Homo sapiens: one gene and its partners. The protein of the gene in region 3 purifies or fractionates together with the protein of the main gene of each other region. This does not show direct contact. Each region holds a gene or a part of one and is shown on either strand. Other genes may lie near its edges.

Region 1 (7,434 bases), on a different chromosome or scaffold from region 3:
AAGTCTATTCTATGCCTAAACAACTAGGGCTTTAAATAAATGTAGCATCAGTTAATATGGTAGAAAACTGTTACATTTCTTTAAAAAGAAATACTATGTTCTGCTTTTTCATCCCTAAATCCAAGTTAAAAATAAACAAACAAAAACTTTCAAAAATTATAGGAGTTACTCAAAACTTATGTATTAAATATCAATTCTTTAATTACTTAGGGCACTAAAACTGGGCAGCTATCATATAGAAATAGAGGCACTCTGCAGGATAAAGTTCAAATGATACTTACAGAGGTATCATAATTCCCAGGTGGAGCAATGTAAGTTACAGTTCCTCTGTTTCGTGGGGGTAACATGATTTTGTGTTTGATAAGCGAGTTCTCACTGACAATTCCATAAATGTCTCCGCCAGTGATATGACTACCAACCTAGAGATAAATGTATTTGCTGTTTAATTTGCAAATAAATGTCAAGTAGACTTGCCCCTGCTGCTATAATTTAAATCAATTACCTGACTTATCAATAAAACATTAGTTCTAAAATCCCATGAAGTAGAGTTAAGAAAAACTTTAAACTATCCTTCTGTAGTCTATTTTTATTTGGACTAAGAGTACAATGTAGTTTACTAAACATTCATTTTATATTCTTTCAATAACTTCAGAAATTCTTGGTTACACAGACATACCCGTAGGTTTTTGCAAGGTGTAAAGTCCCATTTGATATCTCTGCTAAGAGCAGACACGTTTACTCCTCTGGGGATGTAGATGCTTTGGGTCTGACTGCTGATATCCGACAAAGGTCTTTGAATACCATCAAAAATGGCTCCCATAATGCCAGGACCAAGCTCTACAGAGAGGGGTTTACCAGTGCGAAGTACAGGATCTCCAACAGACACACCAGCTAAAAACAGCAGCTAAGGAAAACCTACTATGAAGGTTTAAAGACACAATTAACAGGAAATACCACAGTTTAACAAGGAAATGCCACTCAAGAAGTGAAAACGGAAGTTCCCAAACTTTCTCAGTTCACAGGATTCATAGTGTTTTCAGTAACTTCTTTCAGTGTCCCAGGACAAAAGATATATCTAACACTTGCATTTATTAAACAGTTATGTCTAAACAACCTAATATGTATATACGTCCTAACAACTGAGTAGCAATTTGAAAAAATATATGCATAAGTTGAAAGAAAAAATAATATTAATTTCAGTCCTAAATATCCATAATTCTCATGAATGTATATGCCCTTGGGGAACTATATAATTTTCCAATCTTGCAATCAGATTGGAAACTTGTTCCATTTTGATTGTCACATGATACCTGCTTTTGTAGCTTAGCAACTGCCAAAAACTCAGCTTTGCAAAGATATGACATCATTGACAAAAATATAGTACAGCAACATAATGAAACTGTTTATTATCTCAAGCTACTAGTTCATGTGGTGTCTGACAATATGTCTAACATTCCTGTGTTTGCCTCAAAAATTTTAAATATCCTGGCACCACATGAGTTTGCTGCAGCTTCTCAGAATGACTCTGCAAAGTTTGGGAACCACAGGGCTAAAAACAGAAGCAAAACTCCCTCATTAATACATTGCTTCACATATGCTGCTGAGGAATATCAGTCCCCTAATAAGGGTATTAGTACTTGGACAAAACCTAAAATCTTAAGAATAAAGTTATTTTGAAAACATACAAATAAGAATAAAATATATAAATAAGCATAATGAGTCCACTTTATTCTACACATTTGTTGACAGGAGTAAAATCAGTACAACTTTTCCTGAGAGCAATTTAGCAATATTTATCAAAATTCAAAATGGGTAAGTCGTGACCTAGGAATCCAACTTCTGTGAATTCTTACTATACTTACAATGTAGCACTGTTTATAACAACCAAAAACTAGAAACCAAAACTTCTATCATTAAGACATTGATAAGTAAATAATGGTACATTTATATGATGGAATTGTTATATGGCTGTAAAAAAAAGAACCAGAGTTATCATGAATTCCTCTAGAAATCTCTCTAAACTATGTATTTTCATTTCCAATTTTGATTATGAAAATTTTCAGAACAACAACAAAGTTGAAAGAATTTTACAGTGGACTCCCAGTCTCTACAAGCTAGGTTCTATATTTAACATTTTACTATATTTATCACATATCTATTTATCTTCTAGAATACACATACTTTTAAGTGAAAAAAAGCAAGGTGTATAACAGTACCTAAAATATGCTATCTTGGGAGGCCGGGGCAGGTGGATCGTGAGGTCAGGAGTTCAAGACCAGCCTGGCCAAGATGGTGAAACCCCATCTCTACTAAAAATACAAAAAATTAGCCGGGCATGCTGGCACGTGCCTGTAATCCCAGCTACTTGGGAGGCTGAGGCAGAGAATTGCTCAAACCTGGGAGGCGGAGGTTGCAGTAAGCCGAGATCATGCTACTGCACTCCAGCCTGGGCGACAGAGTGAGACTCTGTCTCAAAAAGCAAACAAACAAACAAAAAAACCATATATATATGTATATATATATATATGTGTATATATATACGTATATATATACACATGTATATATATATATAGAGAGAGAGAGAGAGAGAAAGGAAAGAAAAATACAAATATTTGTATTTGCTCATGTATGTAATTACTAAACTAGAAGGATATAAAATAAAGGGAGCTATAAATGTGGTTCCATGTGTGCATGGAGGTGTGTATGTGTTTTGATAAACGGCTAGATACAAGACAACAAAGGCAAGGAGGGTTGTCACTGTTTACATTTTCATTTATTTTAAATCTTCAAGCCATGAAAAAGATTAAACAGATTAAAAGATAAAAGTAAAAATAGAAAAAATATTTCTGATTAGTCACAATTTCATAGCTACAAAAACTTCTATTTTTATTTAAAATTTCTAGATGATTTTGTTTTAAATTGGCACCTAGTACTATAAAGAGACTAGTTATCTGCACGCATGTGTTTTAGAATGGCAAAAACGTCGTACCAAATAAATCTTGATTAAATACTCAAAGAATTAATGCTGATTTTGAGAATCAAAGTAAAACACATATAGAAGCACTAAAAAAGTGGTTCTTCTTCACTAGGCTTAACCCTTTATTTTTCATAGAAAATTGAAAATAAATACTATGTTTAAAAGCCAAAATTATGATAACCAAATAGTAAAGCTTTCCTAGTAATAAAACTGAAATGTAATATGTCACTCAGTGCTATCAAAAGAATGGTGACCGTTTTATTTGTGGACTTACTATTTTAAACTGAAATCATAATTAGAGAATTTTAACCTCACAAGTCAATATTGTTATTCTGTTTACGCTTTCTTCTACAATATGCGTCCCAATGAAGAAAAAATTCACTTGGTCCCCCTTAAGTTCATGAATTACTGAAGCAGTAAGAGCAATGAAAGTTCAGAAGATACTAATTTCTTAAAATAAGAGTACCAATTCATAGTACTTTTCTCTCTTTCTTTAACATACTCCTGCATAATTCAGGTCTCTTCACAACACCAGCATTTCATGCTTCTAATATCATTAGTTGTTGCTGCTTTGCTGCTTCCACCTTTGGCTTAAATCCTCAATTTTTTTTTTCTTTTCTGAGATGGAGTCTCACTCTGTTGCCCAGGCTGGAGTGCAGTGGTGCGATCTCTGCTCACTGCAACCTCCCACCTCCAGGGTGCAAGCGATTCCCCTGCCTCAGCCTCCCAAGCGGCTGGGATTACAGGCGCCTGCCACTATACCCAGCTGATTTTTGTATTTTTATTAGAGATGGAGTTTCACCATGTTGGCCAGGCTGGTCTCAAATTCCTGACCTCAGGTGATCCACCTGCCTGCCTCCCAAAGTGCTGGGATTACTTTGTGTGAGGCACTATGCCTGGCCTAAATCCTTAAATTTTGAAATATAGAAAGTGGCAGGAAATTGAGCCAAAAAGGATACAAGTTTCTTCATACACCTGAATAGTAGCCATGTCACCCTCCAATCGAATAATCTCTCCAACCAATTCGCTGTGGCCCACTCTCACCAGCTCATACATGGCTGCACCCGCCATGTCACAGGCTGTAACCACTGAAGAGAACAAAAGACTATTTTGATGACTTAAGACTCTAGTGCTCTGTGAATAGTCACAAATAATTAAAACACCCAATAAACCCAGTATTGTGCCTCTCTCATATATTCATAAGAAGGATAAAAACCTACTATGGAACATACTGGTAGTTTCACATAGATATATATTTTAGTGTATAATATAAAGAGGTAAGCCAAAGATTATTTATTTACATAATATACATGAAAACTTTTCAAACATTTCAAGTTCTGCATGGCAAACTTACCTGGTAGGATTCAGGTATGTTCTGAGAGTTGCTATGATACATGGAGTGAAGGCTTTGGAACAATAAAAAAAACTTTTAAAAGTAGAAATTGGAATAAATGGTTTGGCTAGTAGTATGGTAGAATGCCACACAATTATCACTTCGCTGTGCTGTTACCATTTCCTTTGAGAGACAGACCTAAAGCAACATGTTTACTTTCTAATAACTTATAGCAGTAGTTCTTAAAACTCTTCTGGGACATGGACCCTTTTCAAAAACTAATAATAGCTCTACTAGAAAAACTCACACACACATCTACAAAATTTTTTTCATAGGCCGTAAGGATATTTATAATCAGTCACCACCATTGGGTAAGAAATTGTCAATGGAATTCCATTTACTGAACTTACTATTTTGGACCATGTGGTCTAGTAAGCAAAAATTACTTTTCTAGCAGGGAAGGAAGGTTGCCATATTTTTAGACACGTGTAAGAATAAACCAATTTTTAATATTTAGCCTTCTGATACAACTGATTAGAACTATGTTATAGGTAATACTTCAGTGGAAACTATTAAAGCTTTATGAGTTAATTAACCTGTGTAAAAACAATGAAGACTTATTCATTCTATAAATATTTACCTCTATGCCGACTACTTAAGAATTAAGATGCACTGAAATACCAGAGATAATGAAATTTAAAAATCATATTTCATAAGCCAAAAAAGGATGCCATTGTTCCATTACCTTATTAAGTACTTAAGAATTAAAAATTGCAGGAGGCAAGGGGAGGGAGAGCATTAGGACAAATACCTAACGCACGTGGGGCTTAAAACCTAGGTAACAGGTTGATAGGTGCAGCAAGCCACCATGGCACATGTATACCTATGTAACACACCTACACTTTCTGCACATGTATCCCAGAACTTAAAGTAAAATTTAAAAAAATTTTTAAAATAAAATAAAAATTGTTTCCAGGAGCAGTTTACTACACAGTTTCACAGAATATTTTTTCCTAAACTCTCTGATGTTCTTTTGCCTTTTCTCTAAAGGTTCTTGGGTTTAGTCTGTCCATCCTGAAGACCCTTATGATCATTGAGAGGACAATTATTTCTCTGCATGGCAAAAGATACTGATAACCTTTTAATGACCTGCCAATGAAATCAAGCTCAAACACCAAGTTCTTGGGGGAGAAAAAAGAGGCACAGTGACTGACAGTCTTCATTTGCGTAAACATCAAAAAACTGTCATCACCACTACTCTAACTAGAACAAGAAAAAGACTATATAGCATGAGGTTTTAAGGATAATACATCACTGACCAGGTTTTACTTAGAGAAACTGTGACTGTGAATCACATTGTGTAGTGGGAGTATTCAATAACAAAACAAATACTGGCGTAAGATTTATTATTTAAAAAGCAGCACTCCATGTTTTGGCAGAATGGACATAAAGTTTGGGTCCTAAGACTTCTTTCCCACAGGTAGTTAATAATGTGACACTTAAAATAACCATTCAAAAAGTTTCATAAATGCAAAGGGCAAAAGCTAATATTGCTGAGAAATGCTCTGAGCGTTTGAATTATTAAAGTTCAAAGCAAATTAACATTTACTGAATGCCTGCTATATGCAAGGTATTACATATTAAAAGCTATAAACTTCATAGTTTATTTACCTCAAATTTAACAAAAAATTAAGACATATAAAACTGAACACTGGTTGAACATTTACATAATTATAAACAGGATATCACAAAGTAGTACCTCAATAATTATAAAATTTAGATAATCAATGCTAGATGAGCCCTTATGACAGAGATTCTACTTCGGTCTTATAGTCACTATGAGATCGCCTAAGGACAAACAGAATTTATGCAGGTAAACAGAAAGTTGTATATTTCTATGTAAAATATTTTGAAAAGACATTAATCAAAGTTAGATATCCTTATTTTGAGATTATGATGTATTACTTACCAGGTCCTGAGACCCCATGCACATAACCAAATGTGCTTTCTTTATCTTCATCGAGTATTTTGGGTAGCTTGGAAAAATCCATAATGTTAGTTTACCTATAGTAAATAAATAAATAAATAAGTTATAATTATAAACCGTAAAGCAAAAGACCCAAAATATAGGTAGTCCACTAAGATGAGACCACTCTCATCTTTGGTGTATTCTTGAGTTATTATACTTCTTCAAAGTAGAATAAAAAAATTCCTTTTCTTAATTTAAAAAAAATTTTTAAGAGGCTCTCTGTCACCCAGGCTGGAGTGTGGTGGTACAGTCATAGCTCACTGCAGCCTCAGACTCCTGGACTCTAGCGATCCTCCTGCCTCAGCCTCCCAAGTAGCTATGACTACAGGTGTGTACCACCATGCCCAACTAGTTTTTTGTTTGTTTGTTTGTTTGTTTTTTTGAGACAGAGTCTAACTCCACCACCCAGGCTGGAGTGCAGTGGAAGGATCTCTGCTCACTGCAACCTCTGCCTCCCGAGTTCAAGCAATTCCTGTGCCTCACCCTCCAGGGTAGCTGGAATTACAGGTGCACGTGACCATACCTGGCTAATCTTTGTATTTTTAGTAGAGACAGGGTTTTGCCACGTTGGCCAGGCTGGTCTCAAACTCCTGACCTCAAGTGATCCACCCACCTCAGCCTCCCAAAGTGCTGGGACTACAGACGTGAGCCAGCCACTGAACCCAGCCAAAATTCCTAAAATGTAGTTAAAAGTACCCTATTCCTGGATGCTGGATGGTTTTATCACAACTGAATTATATCTCTATGTGAGGTATTTCATAGGAAATATCGATAACTATAACAAAAAATGTGAAGTCTTTTCAATAACTTATCCACCCCCACAACAAGCCCATCCTCAATGACCTCTCTGACTTATCCAGCTACTCTTTCACTTAATCATGCTGCAGATACACACTGAACTCTTTGTCAGCTCTCAAAAACACAAGCACATTCTACCTCAGGGCCTTTGTACAGGTTGTTCCCTCTGCTTAGAATGTTATTCTCCAAGGTATCTGCTCCTACACCTCCTTCAGGTCTTTTTTTCTAACACAGTCTGTCTCCGTCGATTTGGCAGGAGTGTAATGGTGTGATCATGGCTCACAGCCAACTCAACTT
Region 2 (8,391 bases), on a different chromosome or scaffold from region 3:
GAAATAAGAGAAGTGCTTCCCCTTAGGAATCGGTACAGACTAAATGCTCCATAAATGTAGCCACTTTTATTATTGCTATCCTTATTCTATTTCCATACCTGTAGAATGGGTTGCTCTACAGTTTCAAAGGGTGATTATAAGAACATTCACTCATCCGGCCAGGCGCGGTGGCTCACGCCTGTAATCCCAGCACTTTGGGAGGCCGAGGCGGGCAGATCACGAGGTCAGGACATCAAGACCATCCTGGCTAACATGGTGAAACCCCATCTCTACTAAAAATACAAAAAATTAGCCGGTCGTGGTGGTGGGCACCTGTAGTCCCAGCTACTAGGAAGGCTGGGGCAGGAGAATGGCGTGAACCTGGGAGGCTGAGCTTGCAGTGAGCTGAGAGGGCGCCACTGCACTCCAGCCTGGGTGACAGAGTGAGACTGGGCGACAGAGTGAAACTCCGTCTCAAAAAAAAAAAAAATTCACTCATTCAAGATTTTTTGAGCAGCACAAGTCACTGTTTTAGGCACTTGTGATAGACCCTAACATCTCTACCCTCATAGAACTTATATTGTAATGGAGAAAGGCAGGCAACAGACATTGTAAATAAATCATATAGTATCTTAAAATTGCATACAAATACCATGGGAAAGGGATAAGGTGGGACTGGGGTTGCAATTTTTAGCAGGGTGGTCATGTGAGAAAGGAATCTCTTTGAGAAGGTTAGATGAGAGGGGAACCATGCTCCGTAAGACATAAAAACAGCTTTAGGGTCAGAAGACGCTTTATACAGATGATCTCACAAGGCTGGGGCAGAGAAAGATGTAGTGATTCCTAATCACCCAGCCTTGAATCCACATCTGCCTCAGGTCAGATTGAGTGCAGATTCCCAACCCAACAGGCCTTCTGTTGCCTGCCCCATTCTGGTCTTTCTGCCTTTGGCTTTTGCTTTTCTTAGTGGCCCTAACCATGGTCTCTTCCCAGCAGGTGAACAGCTCGGAGAAGCTGCAGCTGCAGGAGTGCTTGTGGGCTGGTGAGTTGGGCCTGGGGGCAGCTGGGGCAGGGCCACCTCCTAGGGGTGAAGGTCAGGGCATGGGAGGCAGGCAAGTGGCCAATCCCAGCAAGGATGGGTCTTGGTCAGAGTGGCCTCTCACCCCTTCCAGACTCCCTGGGGCCTCTCAAAGACGATGTGCTACTGTTGGAGACACGAGGCCCCCAGGACAACAGATCCCTCTGTGCCTTGGAACCCAGTGGCTGTACTTCACTACCCAGCAAAGCCTCCACGGTTAGGACTGGGCGACCCTCCTCCACAGATCTCTCCAAATGCATCTCACATCTGGCCTCAAATTTTCACTCCATCCACCCTGTGCCGGTCTCTGGGAACATGGGGGGTGACTCAGACCAGGGCCATATTCAGCGGCATCACCAAAGTCTCCCAGTCCCCTCTACCTCATTCTACCCAGCTGTAGCCTGGTAGGTGCTGCCCTAAGGGTGCTACCTCCAGGTAACAGTGCCCCCATCCTTTGGCTTGGCAGAGGGCAGCTCGCCTTGGAGAGTACTTACTACAAGACCTGCAGTCAGGCCAGTGTCTGCAGGTGAGCTGGTGGAAGAAGGGCCCCACCTCAATGCCTAGGGGCAACAGGCCTAAAACTAGCACTCACCTACTGTCTATTTAGGCTTATTTTATGTTCAGCCCTGGGAAAGTTAAGAGTAGAAGAAGCACAGTTCCTATCCCCAAGGAGCACACTGTTGGCTAGACACCCATAAACAGATAACCACACCTACAGGTGCTAAGTTTTGGGTTCCAGGGAGAGCTTCCGGGAAGAATTTCTTCCTATAAGCCAGATTTGGTATGGAAGAAGTCATACCCTAGTCAGTGGGCACAGCACAAAGGCAGAGCAGCTGCAGGAACCTTAGCCGGGAGATATGCATAGTTGATGCTGGGAATTTGGAGATCAGGCCACCAGAGCTTGGTGAATATTGGAACACCTGGCTGGTGCCCTGGATTTGGTTCTGTTTGTATCTTACAGCTATGGGACGATGACTTGGGAGCGCTATGGGCCTGCCCCATGGACAAATGTGAGTATTGTAAGAACTGCCTTTCCTTTCTGTACCAGGAGTGGGGATCTTGACAGGGACCACTCTTGGGCACAGCACATGCAATGGCCTTGTCCTTCCCTGAGATCAGATAAACAGAGGGTCATTCCTTCATTCACTCAAAAAATGATGAGAGCTTGCAGGGATCGCAGGAACACCAAAAATATAAATCCTTGCCCCCGCCCCACCCCTAGAAGACTAGCAAGACATGAGCCAGTCACTTACATTTAAAGTGGGAGCTACTGAAGCACCACCAAGTGTTCAGTGCTGTAAATGCATACAATGTGGACCTGACCTGGGTGGGGTGAGGGGTGAGGGGCTCAGGGGGAAGGTTCCAGCAAAACTCTGAAGACTGAGCTAGGGGAAGGGGGTAGAGATACAGGGTCTTGGACAGGCAGGTTTCTGTCATGAGATAAAGATGCAGGAGACATGTAGGGGATTTGGATCTTATGTTGAGAGCAGCAGGAGCTACGATCAAATTTTTATATATTTCACACACACACACACACATATATATATATATATATATATATATATATATACTTATTTTTTTATTTATTTTTGAGGCAGAGTCTCACTCTGTTGCCCAGGCTGGAGTGCAATGGCGCGATCTCGGCTAACTGCAACCTCTGCCTCCCGGGTTCAAGCAATTCTCTACCTCAGCCTCCCGGGTAGCTGGGATTAATAGGCGCCTGCCACCATGCCCTGCTAATTTTTGTATTTTTAGTAGAGATGGGGTTTCACCATCTTGGCCAGGCTGGTCTTGAACTCCTGACCTCGTGATCCGCCCGCGTCGGCCTCCCAAAGTGCTGGGATTATAGTCGTGAGTCACCGCACCTGGCCCAAATTTATATTTTTAAAAGATCTCTGAGGCTGTCATGAATCAATTCAAGGCAAATCAATTGGAGGTAAAAAAAAAAAAAAAAAGACAGGGCAGGGACACCAGGTAGTTGCAGACACCCAGGACAGCAAGATCAAGGGCCCAGCAACCCTAGCTTAGGGGAGAAAAACAGCTGACATTTTAGCACTTAAGATGCTCGGCATTGTGTTAAGTATGTATTAACACATTGTGTTAAGCTTTATATGTATTAATATATTTAGTCCTCACACCAACCCTATGACACAGGTACAACTTTACAGAGGAGAAAACTGAGGCAGAGGGTGACATTACTTATTCAAAGACCCCTAAACAGATGGAGCTATATTCATCCACTGGCTCTGACACTGTGCTGTGGACTCTGGGCAAATCATTTCTTCGTTTTTTGTTTTGTTTTGTTTTGTTTTGAGAGGAGTCTCACCCTGTCGCCCAGGCTGGAGTGCAATGGCGCGATCTCGGCTCACTGCAACCTCTGCCTCCCGAGTTCAAGCGATTCTCTTGCCTCAGCCTCCCGAGTAGCTGGGATTACAGGCGTGTGCCACCACGCCCGGCTAATTTTTTGTATTTTTAGTAGAGACGGGGTTTCACCGTGTTAGCCAGGATGGTCTTGATGTCCTGACCTCGTGATCTGCCCGCCTCGGCCTCCCGAAGTGCTGGGATTATATAAAGGCATGAGCCACCGCACCCGGCCCAATTCATTTCTGTTAAGTCTCAGTTTTTCTTCTCTGTGGAGGGTAAGTTTCTAACTCTTCTTCTCTGGGTCTCCCAGACATCCACAAGCGCTGGGCCCTCGTGTGGCTGGCCTGCCTACTCTTTGCCGCTGCGCTTTCCCTCATCCTCCTTCTCAAAAAGGATCACGCGAAAGGTGAGCGCTTCCCGGCTCCCCATTCCCCTGGGGGAGGACCAGAGTGGCTGTGGGAGTTCTCCGAGGGAAAGCGGCGGCCGAGCTCACTGGCTGCCTCCGCCCCTCTCCCCTAACAGGGTGGCTGAGGCTCTTGAAACAGGACGTCCGCTCGGGGGGTGAGTGGGAGCAAGCGCTGGGCGGAGGGCCGCCCCCGGGGAGCCAGGCCTGTGCCAGCTCACCTCTTCCCTCCCCATCTGTTTTCTCCGGCAGCGGCCGCCAGGGGCCGCGCGGCTCTGCTCCTCTACTCAGCCGATGACTCGGGTTTCGAGCGCCTGGTGGGCGCCCTGGCGTCGGCCCTGTGCCAGCTGCCGCTGCGCGTGGCCGTAGACCTGTGGAGCCGTCGTGAACTGAGCGCGCAGGGGCCCGTGGCTTGGTTTCACGCGCAGCGGCGCCAGACCCTGCAGGAGGGCGGCGTGGTGGTCTTGCTCTTCTCTCCCGGTGCGGTGGCGCTGTGCAGCGAGTGGCTACAGGATGGGGTGTCCGGGCCCGGGGCGCACGGCCCGCACGACGCCTTCCGCGCCTCGCTCAGCTGCGTGCTGCCCGACTTCTTGCAGGGCCGGGCGCCCGGCAGCTACGTGGGGGCCTGCTTCGACAGGCTGCTCCACCCGGACGCCGTACCCGCCCTTTTCCGCACCGTGCCCGTCTTCACACTGCCCTCCCAACTGCCAGACTTCCTGGGGGCCCTGCAGCAGCCTCGCGCCCCGCGTTCCGGGCGGCTCCAAGAGAGAGCGGAGCAAGTGTCCCGGGCCCTTCAGCCAGCCCTGGATAGCTACTTCCATCCCCCGGGGACTCCCGCGCCGGGACGCGGGGTGGGACCAGGCGCGGGACCTGGGGCGGGGGACGGGACTTAAATAAAGGCAGACGCTGTTTTTCTACCCATGTGGCCCACACGCGTCTCCGTTTCAGTGGCGGGGCTGGCAAACGTCATTCCCTAGCCCCGCGGCCCTTTAAAGCCCGGACAGGTGCAGCTCGGTGCCGCCTCTGGTTGGCTGGCGTGGGGTGACGTAATGGCACATGGCCCGTCGCCATTGGCTGGGCGGCAAGCTCCGCCCCCTGGACTGCGGCGCGGGTGGGGGTTGTGCGTTTTACGCAGGCTGTGGCAGCGACGCGGTGAGGAGACGGCCCACGGCGCCCGCGGGCTGGGGCGGTCGCTTCTTCCTTCTCCGTGGCCTACGAGGGTCTGGATCCTTCTCTGCCGGCTCGTGGGCCGTGCCTTTGCCCTTCTGCGAGGCCCTGAATCTGATCCCTTCCCTTCATATCCGGATCCGGGCTCCTCCCTCCAAGCCCGGGGTTCCGGACACCTCCCCCAAGACAACCCCTCTGGCCTCCTCTCCTTCAGTACTTGGAATCTGATCTCTTCTCCCTAATTCTGCGGATCCGGCCCCTAATATTCTTTATCAGACCCTCAGACAAGAGGCTGACTTCTGCCCCCTTGTCAAGGAGCGAGGCCACTTTCCTCTCCACCCCATGCTAGCGAGGATAACTTATTTCTCTTCTGGAATTGCATCTTATGCGCCTTTCCCCACCCATCCCCACAGCCCCTGCAATACCCAGTTTGGCCTCTTTTGCTTGTAATAACGCAGATCCCAGCGCCACGGCACCTTAGAACAGACCTTTTTCTTTCTCGCGTGGGGCCTGACTCCTTCAGTGAAGCCTCTCCACGCCCTCTATCTGCAGGTCCCCAGCCTGGGTAAAGATGGCCCCATGGCCCCCGAAGGGCCTAGTCCCAGCTATGCTCTGGGGCCTCAGCCTCTTCCTCAACCTCCCAGGACCTATCTGGCTCCAGCCCTCTCCACCTCCCCAGTCTTCTCCCCCGCCTCAGCCCCATCCGTGTCATACCTGCCGGGGACTGGTTGACAGCTTTAACAAGGTGGGTGCACCGGCAGCCTCGTTAGAGGGGAACACAGCGATTTAGAGTGGGGAACTCTGGGATGCAAATCTGCGTGGATTTAAGTTTCATCTTGGTCTCTTACTAGTTGTATGGCCCTAGGCAGGTTGCCTTTCTGTGCCTCAGTTTCCTAGTCAGTAGAACAGTGAAGTGCTAGCATGTGCCAGGCACTGTACTTAGCTATTACTAATTTTCTGTTTCCAGGGCCTGGAGAGAACCATCCGGGACAACTTTGGAGGTGGAAACACTGCCTGGGAGGAAGAGAATTTGTCCAAATACAAAGACAGGTAAGGGGCTGCTGGGGGAAGGGGTGTATATTCCCCTCCCCGCCAAATCTCTGCTCTGCTGGTGTAGGGCTAGGAACTCTTGGGGAGCACTTATTCATTCAACAAATAGCACTGAACATCTATAGTATAGCAGTAAACAAGGCAAGCAAAATGCCCCCTTCCTGGAGCTCACATTCTAGTAGAGAAGACAAGCAGTGAATGAGTAAGTGAATAATATTATGTCAGATGAAGAACAAACAGTGAAGCACGGTAGACTGCAGGACGGTGGGAGGCAAGGTGTTCAAGGTTTGGCATTTGAACAGAGAGACAGGAAGTGAAGAAGCGAGCTATGTGACAGGGAGGGAATTGGGCAGAGGATGGGACTGAGCTTGGTGTATTTGAGAAGTGGCTGGAGTGGAGTGAGCCAAGGGGAGAGTGCTAGAAGGTGAAGGCAAAGGCTTAAGCCTCGAGGGCTACAGAAAAGAGTTTAGATTTTTTTTGGAGTGTAATGGGAAGCTCTTGGAAGGCTATGAGCAGAAAAAGTGATACTGTCTTCTCTACACCTTTAAAGATTACTCACACTGCTATGTAGCAAACGGATTGTAAGGGGCAAGGGCGGAGGAAGCAGGGAGACCAGTTTGGGAGGCAAGTGCATCATCTAGGTACAAAGGCAACACAAGCTAGTGTGGTATCTAGTGGAGGACATGATGAAGAGGTCACAGTCTGGGTATATTTTGCAGAGAGAACAATAGGACCTGGTGATAGATTCATTATGGGTATAGAGAAACAGTAGAATAAAAGATGCTTACTAGATTTTGGGCCTGAGCAACTGGGTGAGTAGTGCAGCTGTTTTCTAAGATGGTGAGATGCGAAACCGAGAAGGTTTAGGGGAGGGGTGGGATGTGGTGTTCTTTGAACGTATTGGGCTGAAATGTCCATTAGACATCCAGGTAGACTCCATACAAATCTGGAATTCAGAAAAGAGTAGGAATTGGAAACAGGAATTTGAGAGTTGTCATTATATAGTCAGTATGTAAAGAAAGCCATGGGAAGGATACAGAAAGCCATTATATAGTCAATATATGTAATACAGAAAGCCATTTATATAGTCAGTATGTAAAGAAAGGCATGGGAAGGATACAGAAAGGCGAGCCCTGAGCCCTCCAGCTTTTCAAAGTCAGATGGAAGAGGAGTCAGCAAAGGCTCAGAGTTAGACCTGGTTGTCGGTTCTTAACCTCTCAGAGCCACAGTTTCTTCACCTGTAAAATGGGGATATTAATACCTGGTTTGCCTATTTCATAGAAGTGTGGAAAAGGCTTAACTGGGATGCCCACTAGAAATAAAGGTTTTGTTATTATGTAACATTGGTCATTTTCTCTTTTCCTTCGCCGGGCCTGAGTTTCCTCATTCAGGAATGAGGGGATTGGCTAAGACAACCCCAGAGGCACTTCCAGCTTTGTAATGGCTCCTGCGTTGCTTGCTTTTTTAAATCACCTCCTATATGCCAGGCACTGTGCCAGACCCTTTAAATACAGGATATAAGACATCAAATATTTATATATGTGTGTATATATATGTGTGTGTGTATATATATATGTGTGTGTATATATATGTGCATATATGTCTGCGTATATATATGTGCGTATATATATGCGTATATATATATATATATGTATATATTTGTGGTAAAATACACATAAAAAATTTCCCATTAAAGACATTTAATAATATTTACAATGTTGTGTAACCATCACCACTATGTAGTTCCAGAACATTTTCATTACCCCCCCAAAAAATCCTATACCTATTACACAGCCACTCCCTATTCTCCCCTTCCCTCGGCTCTTGGCAATCACTAATTTGTGTTAGTCAAGCAGAAATTATGGATTTGCTGATTTCATTGGAATCATAAAATATGTGGCCTTTTGTGTCTGGCTAGTTTCACTTAGCATAATGTTTTCAAGGTTCACCCATACCGTAGCATATATCAATACTTATTCCTTTTTATGGCTGAATAATATTCTCATTTGGCTGTACCACATTTTGTTTAACCATGCATCAGTTGATGGACATCTGCATTGTTTCTACCTTTTGGCTGTTGTGAATAGTGCTGCTATGAACATTGTCTACAAGTTTTCGTTTGAACACCTGTTTTCCATTCTTTTGGGTCTATATCCAGTAGTGGAATTGGCAGGTCCTATGGCAATTCCATGTTTTACTTATTGAGGAACTGCTTTTCCACAGTGGTGATGCCATTTTGTATTCCCACCTGCAGTGTGGGAGGATTCTAATTTCTCCACATCCCTGCCAACACTTGTTATAGGATGTATTTTTAGCCATATCTACCCAGCAAGGGTATTATATTCCATTG
Region 3 (7,434 bases):
GGTCATTTAGAGTTGTTAAAAGCATAGAAATCATCCAGTCTAATCCCCACAATTTACAAAGGAGGCCTCAGGAGAAGTTTCTTTCTGTGATTCAACTGTTTGGTGTCTGAATGAAGGCTGGAACCCAGGCCTCAGGACTTTAAGTCCTGTTCTTTTATGACTGTGATACCCCAGAGTCCCTCCTTCCTGGGAGTTTCCTCTCACAGCTCCCCAGGCCAGGACAGAGAAGCCTGTGCTTGTGGAAGTTGTAAACCTGTAAGTGGCATCTGCGCTCCCAGCCTTTGATGTGCCTCTCTCCAGGACTGGGCTGCCAGCCTCTCAGCCAGCCCAGAGACACTGCTGACAGGGTCCTCCCGCTGGAGTCCAGGCCACTCAAGGTTCAGACTGACAGCCTGTGGTTGTCTCTGGCAGTTTCTTGGCCTGTGACAAGAGTGATGTTTCCCTTCCCAGGTTCTTGGGAGGATGAAAGGCAGTGGATGAGGAAGCACATCTGAGCACGTGCTGCCTGCTGTGCTGGGGCGGCAGGTCAGCTTTCCTCTCTGCGGCCCCATCCCTGGGTCCTGGCAGGGGGCCCCTCCCTGTGAAGTGGCTTCTTCTTTCCCTGGCTGTTTTCTCAAAACCTCCTCACTAGCACCTTCTGTCGATCATCTTCTTTAGGCCAAGCCATTTCTGTCTACGTGAGCCAGTGCCCCATCCACAGGTACTCATTTCAGAACCCCAGTCTCCTGAATCCAACTGAGGTTCTACATATGAAGAGCCGGGGTCAGCTGGGCACTGTGGCTCCAGCTTGTAATCCCAGACTGGAGGCTGAGGTGGGATGATCATTTGAGCCCAGGAGTTCAAGATCAGCCTGGACAACATAGGGAGACCTCGTTCTCTACAAATAATAATAATAAATAATTAATTAATAGAGCCAGGGTCAAGTAGATGCTCACTAAGTAAGGCTCAGCTCCCCTCCTAAGTTCTGCAGGCTGTAGGGCCCTCCCAGCCAGGCAGGGATATGAGCCTGACTTCCTTTCATGCCCAGGCCAGGGACCCTGCCAAGAAGGTGGCAGGAAGCCTGGAAACCACTAGGCCTCTACTAGAGAAGAGGTGTTTGCTCTTCTTCTGTGTCCTTTCTGTGCCAGCTCCAATGTTTGCCCTTGGCAGCTGCCCCACCACCCTTGGGTTCCATGAACTGGCATGGGATAATTGCTTCAAAGGGGTTGTTGGGCCAGCTTGTGGAAGCCTTAACTCAGGAGGACAGTGTAGTAGAGTGGGAAGTTCATGAGGCTTGGGACCTGAGGAATAGATGAGCCACTGGACCTCTGTGAGCCTCAGTTTTCTCATCTGTAAAATGGACTTGGTGATCCCTGCCGTACCTTCTTCCTGGACACTGAAGATCTACTGAGGAAGGTTTCCTTTTTTTTTTTTTTTTGAGACGGAGTCTGGCTCTGTCATCCAGGCTGGAGTGCAGTGGTGTGATCTCAGCTCACTGCAAGCTCCGCCTCCCGGGTGAACGCATTCTCATGCCTCAGCCTCCTGAGTAACTGGGACTACAGGTGCCTGCCACCATGCCCGGATAATTTTTTTGTATTTTTTTAGTAGAGACAGGGTTTCATTGTGTTAGCCAGGATGGTCTCGATCTCCTGACCTCGCCCATCTCGGCCTCCCAAAGTGCTGGGATTACAGGCATGAGCCACTGTGCCCAGCCTTTTTTTTTTTTTTTTTTAAGACACGGTCTCTCTCTGTTGCCCAGGCTGGAGTGCAATGGTGCCATCTAGGCTCACTGCAACCTTGAGCCATCCTCCCACCTCAGCCTCCCAAGTAGATGGGACCACAGACACCCGCCACCGTGCCCACCTAATTTTTGTATTTTTTGTAGAGACAGCGTCTTGCCATGTTTCCTAGGCTGGTCTCAAACTCCTGGGCTCAAGCAATCCACCTGCCTCAGCCTCCCAAAGTGTTGGGATTACAGGCATGCACCACCACACCCAGCTTAAGGAAAGTTTTCCATTCCATGGAGATGAGAGGGCTCACCATTGTCACCTCAGGAGCCAGGGCCACCTGCTGTGGCACCCCAGAGAGTGGAGAAGCCTTGGCCCTTCTGTAGGTCCCAGGCAGGAGAAAGAAGGGGACTCACTGGGCTTGACAAGCTGGGGACACAAGAGGAAGTGGCAGAGATTCTGTGGGAATGGCCACAGCTAATCTGCCCAAGCCAGCCCCATCGCCACTTCCTCAGTCTGTTTTCGCCACCCCCGTTCACGTGGACGTGCACACCTCCCAGAATGCTGAGCTTTGAGTTTGGGCCTGGCCATGCTAGGGAGTGACTCACCACCCAGCACGGAGAGCCTACTCCCCAGCCTGCCCGCCAAAAGGAGCGGCCTCAGCTTGTCCCCGCTAGGACCCTTCGGGCCTCCTGCCCTGGAGGTCATCTCCCCTAGAATACAGTGTCTGTGGAGAAGACAGGCCCACCTACTGGGCTGCCCCTCTCCTCCCACCAGCTAGGGGAGCAAGAACTCAGAGGAGAGCTTCAGAGCATCAGGGAGGGGGCGCATGACTGCCTGCTGAGCTTCCAGTGTACTGGCCCTGTTTCAACATCTGAGGAGCCGTGAGCCCCTCGAGCCCTCTCTGGCCCCTGGGTTCCTGTCTGTCAAATAAGGAGTTCAGCTGATGGCTGAGTTTCTTCTGTTTCAGCATTTTGGCTCTGTGAACTGCAGGGACAATAGCCTGAGGTCCCTCCAGCCACCTCTGCCTCAGCCAGCAGGACAGGTTCCAGACGTTTTTCCAGTAGCTTTCAGGCTGAAGGGGAGCTGGGGCCACGCTGAACCCAAGGGGGAGATGGCTTCTGCTCAGTGAAGGGAAAGGAGAAGGGGCAGAAAATGAGTTTTGCTGAATACCTGCCATGTGCCAGGTCATGTATATATCCTTATATCATGTATTGCTTCTGACAGTTTGTCAGTGTTGGTATGATTACCCTGTAACTTGTCCAGCCTGTGGGACTCAAAACTCTGGGTTTTCTCTGTATTCTGCCTTTTCTGAGTATAAATTCAAGCAAGGTTTAACCCTGGATCTGCCTTAAGCCTCAGAGTCCCCATCTAAAATGAGGATCCTTGTTGTAAGGCTTAACGGGACAGTCCCCATGAAGTGTCCTATGAATTGTGCATTTAAGGAAACATGGGCTGGGTGCAGTGGCTCACACCTGTAATCCCAGCACTTCGGGAGGCTGAGGCAGGTCAATCTCTTGAGGCCAGGAGTTCGAGACTAGCCTGGGCAGCATAAACAAGGCTGCATCTTTGCAAAAAATACAAAAATTAGCCGGGCATGGTGGCCCATGCCTGTAGTCCCAGCTACTCAGGAGGCTGAGGTGAGAGGATCATATGAGCCTTGGGAGGCTGAGGCTGTAGTGAGCCGTGATTGTGCCACTGCACTCCAGCCTCAGTGACAGAGTAATACCCTGTCTGAAAAACAAAACAAAAAAACAAACGTTGTTGGCCGGACGCAGAGGCTTATACCTGTAATCCGATCACTTTGGGAGATTGATACGGGTGGATCACTTGAGGTCAGGAGTTCGAGACCATCCTGGCCAACATGGTGAAACTCCGTCTCTACAAAAAATATAAAAATTAGCTGGGCATGGTGGTGGGTGCCCGTAATCCCAGCTACTTGGGAGGTTAAGGCAGGAGAATCACTTGAACCTGGAAAGCAGAGGTTGCAGTGAGCCAAGATCGCGCTGCTACACTCCAGCCTGGGTGACAGAGGGAGGCTCCGTTTCAAAAAAAAAAACAAGAACAAAAACAAAAGACAACAAACAACAAACGTTGTGAAGAACTGACAGCAAAGTGCTGCCCACCTTAGGGGTCACTGCTGTCATCCCCAGGCAAACTGGGGCTGGATTTTTGTTCTAGCCTGTGAGGCTGGGGTCTTTTCTGATTCTGCGCCAGGAGTCGAAACCTGTCTCCAATCCAGGATGAGAAGCCTGGCTTTCTGCCCCAAGGTACCTGCAGGCCTGAGCATCTCAGGCTGGGCAAGGCAGCCCATGCTGCTGACACCCAATCCCTTGGGCTGTCAGCCTGCCCCAGGCCCTCAGATACAAAGAGATACCATTTCCCCAGCCGGGAGCGCTGCCAGCCAGGCCTGTCTAGGCAGACCTACCCGTGGAGAAAGCGAAGACAACCCCTGTGGGAGGTGGGGAGCTCAGCACCAGCCCTACAGTCAGCTCCCCAAGAAGCGCCCCAGCCTTGGGGAAGGACAGGCCCCGAGGGGTTTCCCCTATGGACCAACTTGTTCTACCAGCAGGGGGCCCTCAGACTCAGGTGGGAAGTAGGACTCATGGAAATGTGGCCTCAGCTTCCATACCTGCCCCCTACAGACAAAAATAATAATAAAATAAATAATAATCCTTGCCTGAAGCTTCTGATCAACCTTCATGGCCTGGCAATAGCTCCCTTGTCCCTCCTAGAGGAAACTTGGCTCCTGGCCTGGGGATTCCCATCTCTCTGACTTCACTTGCTCTGGGCAGTTGGCTCTGTGCCCTTGGTAAGGCTTGACCTCTTCTCTCTTCCTTGCTTTGCCTCTGTTTCACTCAGTTGCCTCATGCAGGCCTTCTCAGGGGGCTCTTTCTGCAAAAGCAAGACTGGGTTCGAGAGCAGCCCTGCTGGGTCTGTGGCCCTTACCCATGTTCCATGTCCTGTCCTGGCCAGGGATCCAAGAGCCAACAGCATATCAGGCAGAAATTAGGCACCATGGGTGCAGTGGCTCATGCCTATAATCTCAGCAACTCAGGAGGCTGAGGCGGGAGGATTGCTTGAGCCCAGGAGTTCAAGACCAGCCATGGCAACATAGTGAGACCCTCTCTCTAAAAAAAAAAAGAGAAAGAAGTGAGACTCCAGCCCATGAGGTCAGGTGTTTCCTGACCTGGGGTGGAGGCTTCCCCAGCTCCCAGACTCCCTGTTCCATAGCAGGCGCTTTCTTTGCCCCACTGGTACTGGTTACAGCCTGGTCCCCAAGCCATGCCAGGCTCCAGGTTTCTCTCTGCCTTCTAAACAGTTCTGTCCGAACTTCTCCCTTCAACTCTCCTTTGCCCCTGCCATTCCCAAGAACCACAAGGAATCTTAACTACCCCTCTTTCTCCACATCTCCAGGAGCTGGTGGGGTCTCTCACTATGGAATAGGTTTGCCATAGCCCTGTTTTCTTCCGCAAACTCAGAGGCATATAGAGAAGCCAAAGCTGGACAGGGACTTTGTCAAACCTAGACCCTAACTGCGGCACAACCAGTGGCACATGCTCTGGGTGCTGCGGGGGAGGTACAGGAACCAGAGGACTCCCCCGCCCTTTGGGAGCTGAGGCTCGCTACAGAGATGAGCCAATGGCAGTGCAGGGCTGTGCACTGCAATCTGACTGCCCTGGAAAGACATTTCAAGGAAAGGCATTTAATAAAAAGAAGTCCCGAGTCTTGCACTTTAAAGACATCCACTGCCTATGCAGGATATGCTGCAGTGGGAGCAGGTCGGTGGCCCACAGGAAACGGCTCTGGGACTGTGTTGACTTCAGTCAGCACATGATGTTACTGATGCATTTGGAGCTGTGTCAACGAACCCAGGGTGTCAACATGAGGGAGGGCCACGCCTTGCTAGCCTCAGTCTGGGCCAGATCACATGCTCTTGGCTCTGGGCCTGGGTACACCAGAGTACTTCCAGAAGTCAGTGGCCAGGGGTGAAAGGTTAGGAGAGGCTGGAGCTGTTTAGCCAGGAGATGAGAAGATTCAGAAGAAGGTCAACAAGTCCCCAGGTACCTAAAGGGCTTTCAAATGAAAGATTAGACAAGATTCCACAGACCTAACCAAGCCCAGCAAAGACGAAATTCAAGACAGAGAATTTTCATGCACAGATGGCAGACAGTTCAGAGTGATTGGTGGTTAAGCTGCCCAAAGCACTATGCCACAAAGGATTCTGGGCTTGTGTCTAGGCTCATCGGGGAAGTATGTCATAATCAGTCATCACCATCTGCCGGGTGCTGACTGGGAGGTCATGCCATGAGTGTGATGTCTTTGCCACCTGCTTGAAAGTCAGCATTAGAAAGATCTTCCAAACCATTCAGGCTTTTTGAAGGTGAGCAGGTGGTCTGTATTAAGTCATTTCCCAGGACCCAAATACTCCTGTAGACCAGAGGTTCTTGATATTTTTCATGCCATGGGACTCTTTGACAGTCTGGCACAGCCTATGGACCTCTTCTTACAGTAATGTTTTAAAACGTGTAAATAAGACCAAGGATTGGGCCAGGCACGGTGGCTCACGCCTGTAATTCCAGCACGTTGGGAGGCTGAGGAGGGTGGTTCACAAGGTCAGGAGATTGAGACCATCCTGGCTAACACGGTGAAACACCGTCTCTACTAAAAATACAAAAAAAAATTAGCCAGGCGTGGTGTCGGGCGCCTGTAGTCCCAGCTGCTCAGGAGGCTGAGGCAGGAGAATGGCGTGAACCCGGGAGACGGAGCTTGCAGTGAGCCGAGATCTTGCCACTGCACTCCAGCCTGGGCGACAGAGCGAGACTCCATTAAGAAAAAAAAAAAAAAAAGACCAAGGATTACAAAAGAAGTCAATTAAATTGAAATACAGTTATCAAACACTTAAAAAAGCAAATTCGTGATATAGAATATATATAGATATGCTTTTTTTTTTTTTTTCTGAGACAGGATCTTGCTCCATCACCTAGGCTGGAGTGCAGTGGTGCAATATCGGCTCACTGCAGCCTCTGTCCCCCAGGTTCAAGTGAGTCTCATGCCTCAGCCTCCTGAGTAGCTGGGATTACAGGCTTGTACCACCACGCCCGGCTAATTTTTGTATTTTTAGTAGAGACGGGGTTTCACCATGTTGGCCAGGCGGTCTCGAACTCCAGACGTCAAGTGATCCACCCACCTCAGCCTCCCAAAGTGTCGGGATTACAGGCGTGAGCCACTGCGCCCAGCTATATAGAAATGCTTTCTACTACATTGTTATAAGTGGGTCTGACTACTGTAATGTTCATGAGTGATGAGTGTAAATGATACCTCACGATATATACAATGACTGTAATGTGATCATGAGAGTATCTGTGATTTCTGTGCATTACAGAGGCACAGACACAGTGACTTGAGGAAATGCCAAGTTAAAACTCCTTGAGGTGAAGACTGACCCCTTTGAGAGGGAGCCCCACTCTGGGGCCGGGTCACCCAGGTCTGGGCCTCTTGACATTGAGAGGTGTGAGCCTCTTCACTAGCACCAGGGTAGGATGCTGACAGGGTCTGACCTTCCCTCTCTCTCCTACAGATGGGCGGACAATTTCATGGCCGAGGGCTGTGGAGGGAGCAAGGAGCACAGCTTCCAGCATCCCTTCCTCCAGGTATCTGGCCCTGTCCCTCCTACCTCCTGTCTCCCGGGCCTCAGACCAGGCGCCACCCCCGGCCATGAGGCCAG

What was found.
Region 1: the proteins of SLC35F6 (region 3) and ATP6V1A purify together in Homo sapiens (co-immunoprecipitation; 2 studies listed by BioGRID and IntAct, with this or other methods). This does not show direct contact.
Region 2: the proteins of SLC35F6 (region 3) and CRELD1 purify together in Homo sapiens (affinity purification with mass spectrometry; 2 studies listed by BioGRID and IntAct, with this or other methods). This does not show direct contact.

Annotation. Positions count from the first base shown.
Region 1 is NC_000003.12:113,777,681-113,785,114, reverse strand, and holds part of ATP6V1A (V-type proton ATPase catalytic subunit A), read right to left. Parts: intron 6,375-7,434; 5' UTR 6,362-6,374; coding exon 6,280-6,361; intron 4,066-6,279; coding exon 3,937-4,065; intron 892-3,936; coding exon 677-891; intron 420-676; coding exon 282-419; intron 1-281. UniProt on the Homo sapiens protein: Catalytic subunit of the V1 complex of vacuolar(H+)-ATPase (V-ATPase), a multisubunit enzyme composed of a peripheral complex (V1) that hydrolyzes ATP and a membrane integral complex (V0) that translocates protons.
Region 2 is NC_000003.12:9,928,877-9,937,267, forward strand, and holds the start of CRELD1 (protein disulfide isomerase CRELD1 isoform 2 precursor), read left to right. Parts: upstream 1-4,957; 5' UTR 4,958-5,044; intron 5,045-5,174; exon of another isoform or gene 5,175-5,543; 5' UTR 5,544-5,562; coding exon 5,563-5,736; intron 5,737-5,958; coding exon 5,959-6,041; intron 6,042-8,391. Other genes in the region: IL17RC (interleukin-17 receptor C), read left to right, coding at 973-1,021, 1,152-1,273, 1,524-1,583, 2,019-2,067, 3,732-3,827, 3,944-3,982, 4,077-4,717. UniProt on the Homo sapiens protein: Protein disulfide isomerase. Promotes the localization of acetylcholine receptors (AChRs) to the plasma membrane.
Region 3 is NC_000002.12:26,766,964-26,774,397, forward strand, and holds part of SLC35F6 (solute carrier family 35 member F6 precursor), read left to right. Parts: intron 1-7,287; coding exon 7,288-7,360; intron 7,361-7,434. UniProt on the Homo sapiens protein: Involved in the maintenance of mitochondrial membrane potential in pancreatic ductal adenocarcinoma (PDAC) cells. Promotes pancreatic ductal adenocarcinoma (PDAC) cell growth. May play a role as a nucleotide-sugar transporter.